2 linked regions of the Homo sapiens genome follow. The protein of the gene in region 1 interacts with the protein of each later gene in a pairwise test. Each region holds a gene or a part of one and is shown in the gene's direction. Other genes may lie near its edges.

Region 1 (7,111 bases):
AAGCAGAAGGCTTGTTCTTTTTTGTTCTAGAGGGTAGAGATAACCTGGAAATTGTAGAGAGACAAAGTTTGTTCTTTTCAAAATTAAGACATAATTTATGTATCATAAAATTTACCCTTTTAAAGTGTTTAATTTAGTAGACTTTAGTATTTCCAGAGTTATGAGACCACCACCATTATCTAATTTCAAAACATTTTTATCACCCTGAAAGAAATTCTCTACTGCTTAGTAGTCACTGTCTATTTCCCTTTCTTTACAGCTCCTAGCAACACTAATCTACTTTTTATCTCTACGGATTTGCATATTCTGGACATTTCATATAAATGGAATTATATAATATGTGGCCTTTTGTGTGTGGCTTCTTTCACTTAGCATGTTTTCAAGGTTCATCCATGTTGTAGCATGTATCAGAATGTCATTCCTTTTCATGGCCACATATTTCATTTATGGATATACCACATTTTATTTATCTGTTCATCAGCTTATAGGCATTTGGGTTGTTTCTACTTTTTAGCTATTATGAATAATGCTGCTATGAACATTTTTATTATGTGGGCATATGTTTTCAGTTATCTCGGGTATATACCTAGGAAGGGAGGCAGAATTTGAAGAATTAAGAAAGAGCTTTCTCACAGTGGAATCCACCACATTGAAGACTGTTCTTTTGTTGAAGTAGTCAGCCAGTAATTTCACTTAACAAATGCATAGTGTTTACTATGTGCTGGATAGTGTTCTAAGTGCTTTACCCTTATTTAAAAATCCTATGAAGTAGGCACTGTTATTACATCTCTTTTACAACAGGGAAGTTTAGTACCTTGCCCAAGATTACACATTGAGTAAATGGTGGAGTTGGGATTGAAATCCAGGTGGTCTGGTTCCAGAGTCTGTACTCTTAAGAGCAGAACAATAATAACTCCAAGCATTTATTAAATTCTCAAGATTTATCCGGCACCATGCTACATGCTTGTATTCAAGCAGAGGCTGGTGATCATCTTTTAGAAATATTTTAGAAATGATTACTTAATTGGATAGAAATTAAATTTCTTGAATCTGAAGGTTCTGTTTTTCCAAGGATGGCTGGAAATGGGGGAAAAGCCAGCAACAAGATGATGTCTGGCCTGAGGCTTTTAAGATGATCAGAATTTGTATCAAAAAGGAAACTGTGAACACGAATGATAAGTATTATAGGAATTCAGTTAACAAGTCTTGTCAGAATGTGGTAATAAATTATATACAACTTAAAGAGATGAAGTTACTTTAAATTGTGTGTGGAAGCCTTAGAAAAATTGAATAATTAAAGTTTCTTGGGAAGATGATCTCCTTTTACAAATGTTTAGTTTCAAATAGTGGCAGCACATATTAGGATAGAGAGATGACTTCTAGAAAACTGAACATATGGGACTGGAACAGTGTATTTTGGAGTCAGTTACAGGAAGGAAGTTGTTTAAAACCAAGTGAACAACAACAGTAACAAATGCATTTGAGAGAAAGAGCAGTGCAGTCCAGACTTAAACATTAGGGTGGCCATAATAGATGGGGAAGAAGGAGAAATCAGCAATCCAGACTAAGACTTCACTGGGTTTTGAGTTAGACAGAGGGAGTCATAGAAGCCAAGGTAAAATGATTAAAACGGTACATGGAGTGGTTAGCAATTCTCCCTATAGGAGAGAGAATTTCCTTATGAAGTTTCAGATGAGACCACTGAACTTGACTAGAGGAAAGTCATTGTTTTTAGAAAACAGTTTCTAAGCAATAATTAGAATTAAAGTTTTGTTGCAGAGGGATAAGTAAGAAGTAGATGGAAAAGAAAGAGAAATATCTGAAATTAGGCTACAGTCATAGAAGGTTAGCTGTGAAACAATAATTTGGAAAGGGAAATGGGACCTCATGAAAGTGTGGGTTAAAAGAGACTTGTATATCTTCTAAGGTAAAAGTAAAGAACTAAGCTGATGTCCAGCCCTCTAAAACATTTTAAATAGAAATCAAACTTTATTAATACAGTAGGTCTAGTTTCACGTAAAGCAAATATGTGGTTCTGTACACGGGCTTTAGGAGAGTAAGTCTGTTGTACCTCATATGTAAGTATTATCCCATTTAGAGGAAAACCCTAAGTCTTTCTTTACAGTGGCTTAAAGGCCCCAATTGATCCACATCCCAGTTACAGCTCTCATCTATTTTCTGCTGCTCCAGATATTCTTGCTGTTTCTCAAACACGCTAGGGCTGCTCTCTGTGTTATGGCCTTTGCATTTGCTGTTCCCTTTCTCATGAATGTGTTTTCCTAAGATACCTGCATGATTACTCTCACCTTATTTAGGTCTCAACTCAAGTATTGTCAGTGAAGGTCTTCTCTGATTTTCCTATTCTAAACTGAGATACTTCTCTTTGCTCACCCCACACCCTCATCCCCAGCTCCATTCCTTCCTGTTTAATTTTTTTTCACAGCACTTAACTCCATCTATTGTGCATCTTTTACTTAGTAATTTTGTTTTCGTCTTCCGCTATTAGAATGTAAACTCCAAGAGTGTAAGAATTTTTCTAGCACTGGAAAAATGCCTGGCACATAATAGGCATTTACTAATTGTTGTGTGAATGAACGATTATAAGTTTAATATTCTTTGTGGAAACTAATAAGGTTGATTTCCTATCAGAAACCGATCATTATTAATAAGCATATTGGATGGTATTTATAGAATTAGCCTTCATATGTTCTCTACTCAGAAGTTGGCAAACTTTTTCTGTAAAGTGCCAGAGAGTAATTATTTTTGCAGGCTTTGTGGTCTCATTACAGCTACTTGACTCTGTTGTTGTAGTGGAAAATCAGCCATAGACAATCTATAAATGAATGAGCATGGCTGTGTTCCGGTAAGACTATTTATGGACACTGAAATTTGAATTGTATATAATTTTGAAATGTCAGAAAATATCCTTCTTTTGTTCTTTTTTTCTAATCATTTAAAAATGTAAAAAACTATTCACAGGCCAAACAAAAACAGGCAGTGGTCCAAATTAGACTTGCAAACTGTACTTTGTCAATCTCTGGTTTTACTGATTTCTTAAATATATCTTAGGTTAAAACTTATTTTTCCATACTTGATAGGGAGCAACAATGTGAATTAAACTGTAGAAACAAATAATTCAGAAATACATCTGTTTAGCTTTAGAAACTTCCATTTTGCTTCATTTTTGTTTTCCTGGGAACCTTATATTTCCATTATATGTTTATGATGCTACCATTTAAATGACTTTGCATTCTCTTAGCATATGCCACATGATAGTGTTAGGGTGGTGTAATAGTTCAGGAGCAAAGCTGAGCAAAGCCCACCCACGTTTAAAAATTTGCCATTATTTAGAAGGTGCATAATTCCCATATGGGAGAATGAAGAGTCATCTAATAATGCCCAGAGGGCTGCACTGTGAGTGAGAATTGTGTTGCAGTTTTTAACATTCATAACACATTTCTTGAATAAGCTGCAAATGCTTTTAATAATATATCTCAGAGTTAATTTTAGCTATGCTACATTGGCACTTTTTGCTCCTCCACTTCAAAAAACCAACACAAGAAACTATTCTCAAATCAAGCTGTGATTTGGATGGGGCATTGTATTTTCCTCAATAAGCACAAAGAAGAGAGAAAAGATGTTTTCACTTGGCAAAACTTTTTTTTTTGAGATGGAATCTCACTCTGTTGCCCAGGCTGGAGTGTAGTGGCACAATCTCGTCGGCTCACTGCAACCTCCGCCTCCCGGGTTCAAGCAATTCTCATGCCTCAGCCTCCCGAGTAGCTGGGATTACAAGCGTGCACCACCACCCTGGCTAATTTTTGTATTTTTAGTAGAGCCAGGGTTTCACCATGTTGGCCGGGCTATTCTCAAACTCCTGACCTCAGATGGTCCTCACACCTCAGCCTCCCAAAGTGCTGGAATTACAGGTGTGAGCCACTGTGCCCAGCCCACTTGCAAAACTTTTTAACATTTATAAGGTTTTTTACATACTTGATTTTGTTCAGTTCTTAGAATAATCTCATGATGTAGGTGACCTTATTAACTATTTACAATGTGAGAAAATGGATAGTCAGTGAAGATAAGTAACTTGTCCAAGGTCACAGCACCAGAACTCCAAACCAGACCTTCTGACCTTCTTGATACAGACTCCTCACAGTCACCTGCATGCCATCTTTGGTTTCAGTGCTATGAACTTTCTTCACTGCCTGTTGGTCTGTAGCTACACCTACTCATGAAGATGCCCAGAGCCTTAGCCGCTCCTTGCTCTGCCATGCTTATCTTATGCAGCTCTGGGAGGGGTGAAGAGGCTGTGGCCAGTTACCTCACTACCACTATAGCTATTCACCACCCTGTTTTCTCCTTTAGCCATTTTAGCTACTACACAATTCTTCTGGGCATTTTCTGTCTTAGTTCCCTAGTATCTGGCCTTCCTTCTTTTCTCAGTAACTGTGACCCCTGCTAGCTAGCCTTGCCAACCAATGGTTAATGAAAGGTCTTGGATATGACTGTCAAAGACAAAAGCACTCATGACCCCAATGTTTCAGGTCACAATGATTAGGAAAATCAGGACAACAAGGCTTGGGCACAGAAAAGCTGGTTTTTGAGAGGGGGATTTAGAGTTTGGTTTAAATGTGTAATCTTTGAGGTAATGGTGGAACAGCCTACTAGATTCAGTTTTCTAGTCCCTGAAAACTAAAACGAGGAATAAGTTGAATCACATATTTGGGGCACCAGCCAAATATATAGCAGCATTTATAGTTAGAATCAAAGTGTTTGTGTTTCTTAATTTAAATGCTTCTCAGAGATTCCATTTAAACAACTTCATTATGAAAATGGAGACTTACCATGCCTTTTTGATATTGTTCAGAGAAAATTGTCATAAATAATACACACAGTTTGAAATGGTTGTACATCTTATGAATCAAGGGGTGGCATGTAAAAAGGTTCCTCAGTGCCTCAATGTGGAAAATATCATAGAATGTTATTCTTCAATTGATTCCTTCCTTCACTTTGGTGTTTATATGGTATCTTAGATATTTTATGTTATTTAATTATATTTTGTGCCTTTTTATTTGGTTAAAAATGCCTACTTAAATATTAACAGATTTTTAAATATCCCTTTGAACTCTTCCCCATTCCTGTACCTCCTTTCCCTTTTTCTGTTGTAATGTCAGCCACCTGAACATAACCCAGAAAACTAGGTATCAGCCAATTGATGTTTCAGTGGAAATAAGAGAAAGAAGCACTTACTATTTCTCAATGCTTAATTGAGGAAAAGCACATGATACCTTACATATTTTAAATTGGAGGGGATAATAGGGTCAAGTTCATGCATTATATTGTGGACATCTTAATCCTATCAAATGGCTTAGTCAAAATGAGAAAGTTAATGAATTTAAGCAGACAAGTACGAACAGTGCTCTAAAAAAGGTGCTGTTACACCATCCCAACCTGTACACACATGAAAAAAAGCTGGGGTGCATTTTGCGTTTGAATAAGGGTCATGTTGACTGGCCATGGCAGACCCTGCTAGACCATACAGCTGATACTCTGTCACCTGCCAGGACTCAAAAGGACATGGGAGTATGTGGTTAAGTTCTCTAAGGACTCTTTCTTCTAAAGGGAAGCAGTTTTATAGGTGGTCCTTGTAGGTCTGTTGATTCACAATCTCGTGCTTTCTTGATTGGACTGTATTGTTTTACTGTAATTTTTTGGACTTACAAGAAGTCAGGTGTTTTCATGGACTCTTCTCTTTTCCATACAGATGTCCAGAAGGCTTCTTGGGGGAATATTGTCAACATCGAGACCCCTGTGAGAAGAACCGCTGCCAGAATGGTGGGACTTGTGTGGCCCAGGCCATGCTGGGGAAAGCCACGTGCCGATGTGCCTCAGGGTTTACAGGAGAGGACTGCCAGTACTCGACATCTCATCCATGCTTTGTGTCTCGACCTTGCCTGAATGGCGGCACATGCCATATGCTCAGCCGGGATACCTATGAGTGCACCTGTCAAGTCGGGTTTACAGGTAACTAATGAGACCAAAGCCAGTGCTTTCCTACCTTCAGCAGATACCTTTATTTAGCATCTTTTAGATCATGGTATCTGGCTCTTAAATGTCCCCCAGCTCTGGTGCACATTTAACATTATGATAAGGAACTGGGATGTTCCAGACAACTATCCCTAACTTCCTTTTAAGAGTTTCAGGGGGCAGAGAAAGAGAAAGAAAAAGGACCAAATACTTTGACTGCTTAAAGTATATATGTCAGGGCCAGGTGCGGTGGCGTACGCTTGCAATCCCAGCATTTTGGCAGGCCAAGGCAGGAGGATCACTTGAGGCTAGAGGTTTGAGACCAGCCTGGGAAACATAGCAAGACCCCATCTCTACAAAAAAACAAGAATAAAAATAAAACAAAATTAGTCATGTGTGGTGGTGTGCACCTGTAGTCCTAACTACTTGGGAGGCTGAAGTGGAAGAATTGCTTGAGCCCAGGAGTTTGAGGCTGCAGTGAGCTATGATCGCACCACTGCACTCTAGCCTGGGTGACAGAGTGAGACCCTGTCTCAAAAAAAAAAATATGTACACCAGGATGGGGAATCAGAGTTTACTTCACTAAAAGAAATAAGTACACTGTCACCAGAGGAAAAGTTGCTGATGTTATTGACTATTTGCTTTTAGAAATCTCCCTCCCTAGACATTCAGGGCACTGGCTTTTCTGGTTTTCTGAACCCTGTTCCTTTTGCTTCTTCATTACCTTGTTCTTATCCATTAAATGTTTGTGCTCCCTGGAGCACTGTTTTTCGCCCTCTTTTGAGCCACATCACAGCTCTCCCTAGGGAATTTCACTGTCTGTATTCGCCTCCACTGCCACTGTCTTCATTAGCTTGCTGATGAATCTCACCATCATTCCCTTAGCTCCACCCAACCCTGACATTCAGGCTCATGTTTCTAGCTATCCTTTGTATGTTCTCCTTGGAGATATTCTACAGGTACTTTCAGCTCACCTTGTTGACAGAAATACGTAGCAACCATGTACATCCCAAATACCCACGCTAGAAACTCCCTGTCCCTTGTTCTGACCTCATTTCAACTCAGTCACCCAAGCCAACCT
Region 2 (7,000 bases), on another chromosome or scaffold:
TACAAAACCTGCAGTGCTCAGAGACAGAGGCTTGAGAGAGTGTGGGGAGGTGGGCAGGATGGGCCTGCCCCGAATAGCCAGGTCCACGGCCAGCAGATGGACTCGAGAGAGAGAAGCCGACACCTGTGAGAAACGCCAGATACTGTGTGTGGTGGTTGGGAGCCAGCAGGCAGCCTGGGTGTGGACAGAGCTCCATGGTCAGACAGACCAGAATGTGTGTCTCCATGTCTTGTGTCCTGCCCTCAGTCTCCTCCCTCCCGTCACAACTTCCCATGTGGTGGCAGCAGTGCCCTTGGGTGTGTGCCCCTGTAAGGAATTGCCCTGTGCCCTGAATATCATTCCCAGCGAGCATGTTCAGTTTCTAATGAAGAGTTTTCTTTGCTTTCTTTTTTTGAGATGTGGTCTCACTGTGTTGCCCAGGCTGGCGTGCAGTGGTGCAATTGTAGCTCACTGCAGCCTCAATCTCCCAGGCTCAAGCGATCATCCCACCTTAGCTTCCTGACAGCTGGGGCTACAGGCTTGCACCACCACACCTGGATAGTTTTTTTTTTGAGATGGAGTCTCGTTCTGTCACCCAGGCTGGAGTGCAGTGGCAAGATCTCGGCTCACTACAAGCTCCGCCTCCCGGGTTCACACCATTCTCCTGCAGGCGCCCACCACCACACCTGGCTAATTTTTTCTATTTTTTAGTAGAGACGGGATTTCACCATGTTAGCCAGGATGGTCTCAATCTCCTGACCTCGTGATCTGCCCACCTCCCAAAGTGCTGGGATTACTGGTGTGAGCCACTGCGCCCAGCCTTTTTTTTTTTTTTTTGACGGAGTCTCGCTCTGTCGCCCAGGCTGGAGTGCAGTGGCACGATCTTGGCTCACTGCAACCTCCGCCTCCCGGATTCCAGTGATTCTCCTGTCTCAGCCTCCCGAGTATCTGGGATTACAGGTGCGCGCCACCTCGCCTGGCTAATTTTTTGTATTTTTAGTAGAGATGGGGTTTCACCATGTTAGCCAGGCTGGTCTCAATCTCCTGACCTCGTGATCCACCCACCTTGGCCTCCCAAAGTGTTGGGATTACAGGCATGAGTCACCACGTCCGGCCATTTTTTTTTTTTTTTTTAATAGAGACAGGGTTTCACCATACTGCCCAGGCTGGTCTCTAACTCCTGGGCTCAAGCCATCCACCCACCTTGGCTTCACAAAGTGCTGGGATTATAGGCATAAGCCACTACACCCAGCCAAGTTTTCTCTTTGATATGAGTGAATTAACAGACACCTGGTTAAAGAAAATGCTTTTACCCCAGAGCTTAAGCCTCTGATGTGGAAACTATGCTTGGTACTCTGGTATGCAGTTGACTTGGCTGTGTGTGAGAAATTATTTTATTTTTACCTAGAGATTTAAAAGAACTTGTTTTTCTCTTTTTTTTTCCTTTTTTCTTTTCTTTCTTTTTTTTTTTTTTTTTTTTTTTTTTTTTTTTTTTTTGAGACAGAGTCTTGCTCTGTCACCCAGGCTGGAGTGTAGTGGCCTGATTTTGACTTATGGCAAGCTCTGCCTCCCGGGTTCAAGCCATTCTCCTGCCTCAGCCTCCGGAGTAGCTGGGACTACAGGCGCCTGCCACCACACCCGGCTAATTTTTTGTATTTTTTTTAGTAGAGATGGGGTTTCACCGTGTTAGCCAGGATGGTCTCGATCTCTTGACCTCGTGATCCGCCCGCCTCGGCCTCCCAAAGTGCTGGAATTACAGGCGTGAGCCACCGCGCCCGGCCAAGAACTTGTTTTTCTCAATACAAATGTATTGCTTAAAAGAAACCACCTTCGGCCGGGCGCAGTGGCTTGTGCCTGTGATCCCAGCACCTTTGGGAAGCTGAGGCAGGGGGATCACTTGAGGCCAGGAGTTTGAGACCAGCCAGGCCAACAGGGTGAAACCTCATCTCTACTGAAAATACAAAAATTAGCTGGGCGTGGGGGCAGGCACCTGTAATCCCAGCTACTCGCCAGGCTGAGGCAGGAGAATTGCTTGAACCTGGGAGGCAGAGGTTGCAGTGAGCCGAGATTGTGTCACTGCACTCCAGCCTGGGCAACAGAACGAGACTCTGTGTCAAAAAAATAAATAAATAATAAAATAAAAATAAATAAATAAACCACCTTCATCCCATGCAGTGCTTTCGTGTGACCAGGGCTCAAATGACATCCTGGATGTTGCAGGGTGGGCCGACGCCTGACAGGCTGCAGGAAGGAGCACTGTGGCATGGGTGCATTCTGCTTTAAAAAAAAAAAAAAAGATATAAATCAGCTGGGCGAGGTGGCTCACACCTGTAATCCCAGCACTTTGGGAGGCCGAGGCAGGCGGATCATGAGGTCAGGAGTTCGAGACCAGCCTGACCAACATGGTGAAATCCCATCTCCACTAAAAATACAAAAATTAGCCGTTCTTGGTGGCACATGCCTGTAATCCCAGCTACTCAGGAGGCTGAGGCAGGAGACTTGCTTGAACGCGGGAGGCAGAGGTTGCAGTGAGCTGAGATCACACCACTGCACTCCAGCTTGGGTGACAGAGGGAGACTCCGTCTCAAAAAAACAAAACAAAACAAAACAAAACAAAAATATATAAATCATGTAACAAATGAACCATTTTACAATTCAGGTTGGGTTTTAGTATATATATATCTCTAATATATATTTACATTCTATATAAATATATACTCTTAAGTATATATGTAATTTTATATATATATATATATATATATATATATATATATATATATACTTTTTTTTTTTTTTGAGACAGATTCTCGCTCTGTTGCCCAGGCTGGAGTACAGTGTTGTGATCTCGGCTCATTGCAACCTCCTCCTCCCAGGTTCAAGCAATTCTGCCTCAGCCTCTCAAGTAGCTGGGACTACAGGCGCCTGCCACCACACCTGGCTAATTTTCATATTTTTAGTATAGACAGGGTTTCACCATGTTGGCCAGGGTGGTCTCGAACTCCTGACCTCAAGTGATCCACCTGCCTCAGCCTCCTAAAGTGTTGGGATTACAGGCGTGAGCCACTGTGCCCGGCCATGTTTTTGTGTGTGTGTATATATATATATAATTTTTTTTTTTTGAGATGGAGTCTTGCTCAGTCGCCCAGGCTGGAGTGCAGTGGTGCGATCTCGGCTCACTGCAGCCTCCACCTCCCAGGTTCCAGTGATTCTCTGCCTCAGTCTCCCAAGTAGCTGGGACTACAGGAATGTGCCACCACACCCGGCTAATTTTTGTATTTTTAGCAGAGATGGGGTTTCGACATTTTGGCCAGGCTGGTCTCGAACTGGCCTCAAGTAATCTTCCCACCTTCGCCTCCCAAAGTGCGGGGATTACAAGTGTGAACCACCGCCTGGCCAGGTTTTAGTATATTTTTTAGGTTTTAATATATTCACTATGTTGTGCAACCATCACCACTATAATTTCCAGAACATTTTAATTACCCCAAAACTTGATACCCGTAAAGCAATTACTCCCCACTCTTTCCCCTCAGCCCCTGGCGACCACCAGTCTACTTTCTGTCTCTGTGGATTTGCCTATTCTGGATATATCGTATAAATGGAATTATGCAATATGTGGTCTTTTGTGACTCACTGCTTTTACTTTCCATGTTTTCTAAAGTCCATGTTGCAGTATGTGTTAGTACTCATCCATTTTTATGGCTGAATAATATCCCATTCTATGGATATACCACATCTTATTTATGCATTTGTCATTTTATATACTTGGCTTGTTTCTCCATTTTGGCTACTGTGAACAGCGCTGCTCTGAACATCTGTGAGCCAGTGTTTGCTTGAATGCCTGAGTTCATTTCTCTTGGGTGGATACCTAGGGGTGGAATTACTCGGGGTGTGGTAGCTCCATCTTTACCTTTCTGTGGAGCTGAAGGTTTCCACAGCAGCTGCACTATCTATATCCCCACCAGCCAGGTGGGAGTGTGTTCTGTACTTTCCTCTTTTTTGCCATGTCTTCTTGTCCTCAGGGCAAACACTGAGCATGGATGGTGCCAGCTGAGGCCAATCAGCTCACCTGCAGTGGGGGAGCCCCATGATAGAGCTTACTGCCAGCAGCTTTGCCAGTCCTGGGTGTATGAGTGGTGCTTTTTGAAATCTTGTCCCGCCCCCTCCAGCTCATTTACTTTATTCACACAGTGAGTCCGTACTCCACATTCTGGAGAAAGCTTCCCTTGTCTCCCTGTGGGGGCCTGTGAGAACCCCATCCAGACTCAGGGAGCCCAGCTCCCTCTACTCTGGTGTCTGTGGGTTAGATTCATGTCCACCTGCTGTTGGGACGGTCAGTGCCCATGAGCAGGTGAGGCCTGTGGCTGCTTGCCTCCCCATGTGCCCATATCATTCCCCATCCTGTTCTTGGGAAGCTGCATGGTCAAGACCTGAGGGCAGAAGGGACAGAAAGAGAGTAACAAGCTACAACAGCAGCCAACCCCTCACCTGGAAGGAGTAGCCTCAGACTCAGATCCACAAGTGTTTGGGAAGGGGATGTTTGTAACTGAGTGCCCATTCTCTCTCACACCCTTCCACCTGCGTGGGAGGTGACAGGTCACTCTAGGTGCCCTGTGCACAGTCCAGGCCACGGGGCAAAGCATGCTGGTGTTCAGCACCACCCAGATGTCCTCGTACTCAGAGAAGTTCCTTACTTCCAAGCATGCCTCCTTGAGTCCCAGGCTCCAGCTGGCTGATAGGTGGAGAGACCAAGGCATGAAGTGGCAGAGCCCACAGTGGGGGGAGGTGATGGATTTTCTCTAAATTAGACCTGATTAGTGCCACTCTTGAGGGAGGGAGATCGAGGAAGGATCGGCGCCTTTGGGAGTCTGCATCTGGCTCCGGGAAGTCTCAGGAAAACCCAGACCCCGAGTGGCTTTAAGGTGCAGAGGGAGAGGCAGCCTCACCTTTCCTGTCTCACACAGGCCTGGAGGGGACAGGAGGGTTGTGCAGTTATCACGTGTGACAAGTGAGGCTGAGAAACCTCACATCACACCAGAGTCCCCTTGTCCTTACTGTCACCCTGGCTTATTAGCAAATGCCTGGCCTGGGACTGGTACTTGCTGAACCCTTGGCACTGGGCCTTTCTGCTCTCCAGCTCAGGCCAGCAGCCTCCCATACAGCAGAGCAGGAACCGGGCCTGGCTGCTTCAAAGGCCTTTCGTGACCTGCAGAACTTGTCCAACTCTGCATTTTTGTCTTTAACCAGTTTGGTATGTTTCATTTCCACTCAAAAACATTCATCCCCAGAGTGCTGGCCATCAATGCATTTCTGCCATTGTGGTCATGATGTCCAAGAAGGAAATAACCCCCCAGGGGCAACTGGCAGCAGCTTCCTTTGGAGAACTGCAGCCAGTCGCTCTGAAGTGTCCTTGGCTGAAAAGTCAACATGTAGAGTCTTGGTTAAATGCTTCGTGAGTCCTTTTAGTTCCCGGTCAAGTTATTTCAGGCCACCAGGTGGCCCAGGGCAACTGCCTGTTAGAAATCTGCAAAACAGACAGAAAAAGTGACATCAGGTCAAGGACGTCTCACCATGTTGGCAAGGATGGTCTCGATCTCTTGACCTCGTGATCCGCCCCCCCCGGACTCCCCAAGTGTTGGGATTACAGGCATGAGCCACCACACCCGGCCCTCTGAGACATTTAATAAATGGATATCGGCTGGGTGCGGTGACTCACGCCTATAATCCCAGCACTTGGGGAGGCCGAGACGGGTGGATCACCTGAAGTCAGGAGTTCAAGACCAGCCCCGTGAACATGGTGAAACCCCGGCTCTACTAAGAAAAAAATACAAAATTAGCCGGGCTTGGTGGTGAATGCCTATAATCCCAGCTACTCAGGAGGCTTAGGCAGGAGAATTGCTTGAACCCAGGAGGCGGAGGTTGCGGTGAGCTGAGATTGTGCCACTTCATTCCAGCCTGGGCAACAAGAGTGAAACCCTGTCTCTAAATAAATAAAAATAAACAAACAAACAAACAAATAAATAAAGGGATATCTGGCCAGGTACGGTGGCTCACGCCTGTAATCCCAGCGCTTTGGGAGGCCGAGGTGGGCAGATCACAAGGTCAGGAGTTCAAGACCAGCCTGGCCAGCATGGTGAAACCCCATCTCTACTAAAAATACAAAAAATTAGCCAGACATGGTGGCAGGCACCTGTAATCCCAGCTACTCAGGAGGCTGAGGCAGGAGAATTGCTTGAACCCAGCAGGCGGAGGTTGCAGTGAGCTGAGATGGCGCCACTGCACTGCAGCCTGGGTGACAGAGAGAGCCTCTGTCTCAAAAAACACCAAAATAAATAAAATAAAATAAGAGGATATCTGCCTTGCACAGAATAGGGAACACAGGACAAAAGGAGAAGAATCTGAGCTCCTGTGCCGAGTGAAGCAGTGATTTACGAGGGTGCCACAAGTGTGTCCATCTCACGCTCTGCATATGATGTTAGCCATCCGGGATTCAGAGTCTAAAGGCTGTGCTGGACAGATCCATCTTTGTTCTGGAAACAATGAGATCTAGGGAGGGGACAGGAGGATTGTGCACTTATCACGTGTGAGGCTGAGAAACCTCACATCACATCACAATGAGGAAAATATTTATTTATTTATTTATTTTTGAGACGGAGTCTCGCTCTGTCGCCCAGGCTGGAGGGCAGTGGCCCAATCCCAGCTTACTGCATCCTCCACCTCACAGGTTCAAGTGATTCTCCTGCCTTAGCCTCCTGAGTAGCTGGGACTACAGGCATGCATCACCATGCCCGGCAATTTTTTTTTTTTTTTTTTTGAGACAGAGTCTCGTTCTGTCGCCCAGGCTGGAGTGCAGTGGCGTGATCTCGGCTCACTGCAAGCTCCGCCTCCCGGGTTCACACCAGTCTCCTGCCGCAGCCTCCCGAGTAGCTGGGACTACAGGCGCCCGCCACCACGCCCAGCTAATTTTTTGTATTTTTAGTAGAGACGGGGTTTCACCGTGTTAGCCAGGATGGTATCGATCTCC

What was found. The genes of interacting proteins can lie anywhere in the genome.
Region 2: the proteins of NOTCH2NLC (region 1) and ZNF837 interact in binary tests that used the Homo sapiens proteins (3 or more experiments, as listed by UniProt).

The regions. Positions count from the first base shown.
Region 1 is NC_000001.11:149,449,551-149,456,661, forward strand, and holds part of NOTCH2NLC (notch homolog 2 N-terminal-like protein C), read left to right. Parts: intron 1-5,767; coding exon 5,768-6,027; intron 6,028-7,111. UniProt on the Homo sapiens protein: Human-specific protein that promotes neural progenitor proliferation and evolutionary expansion of the brain neocortex by regulating the Notch signaling pathway.
Region 2 is NC_000019.10:58,371,031-58,378,030, reverse strand, and holds part of ZNF837 (zinc finger protein 837), read left to right. Parts: exon of another isoform or gene 1-448; intron 449-3,377; exon of another isoform or gene 3,378-5,489; intron 5,490-7,000. UniProt on the Homo sapiens protein: May be involved in transcriptional regulation.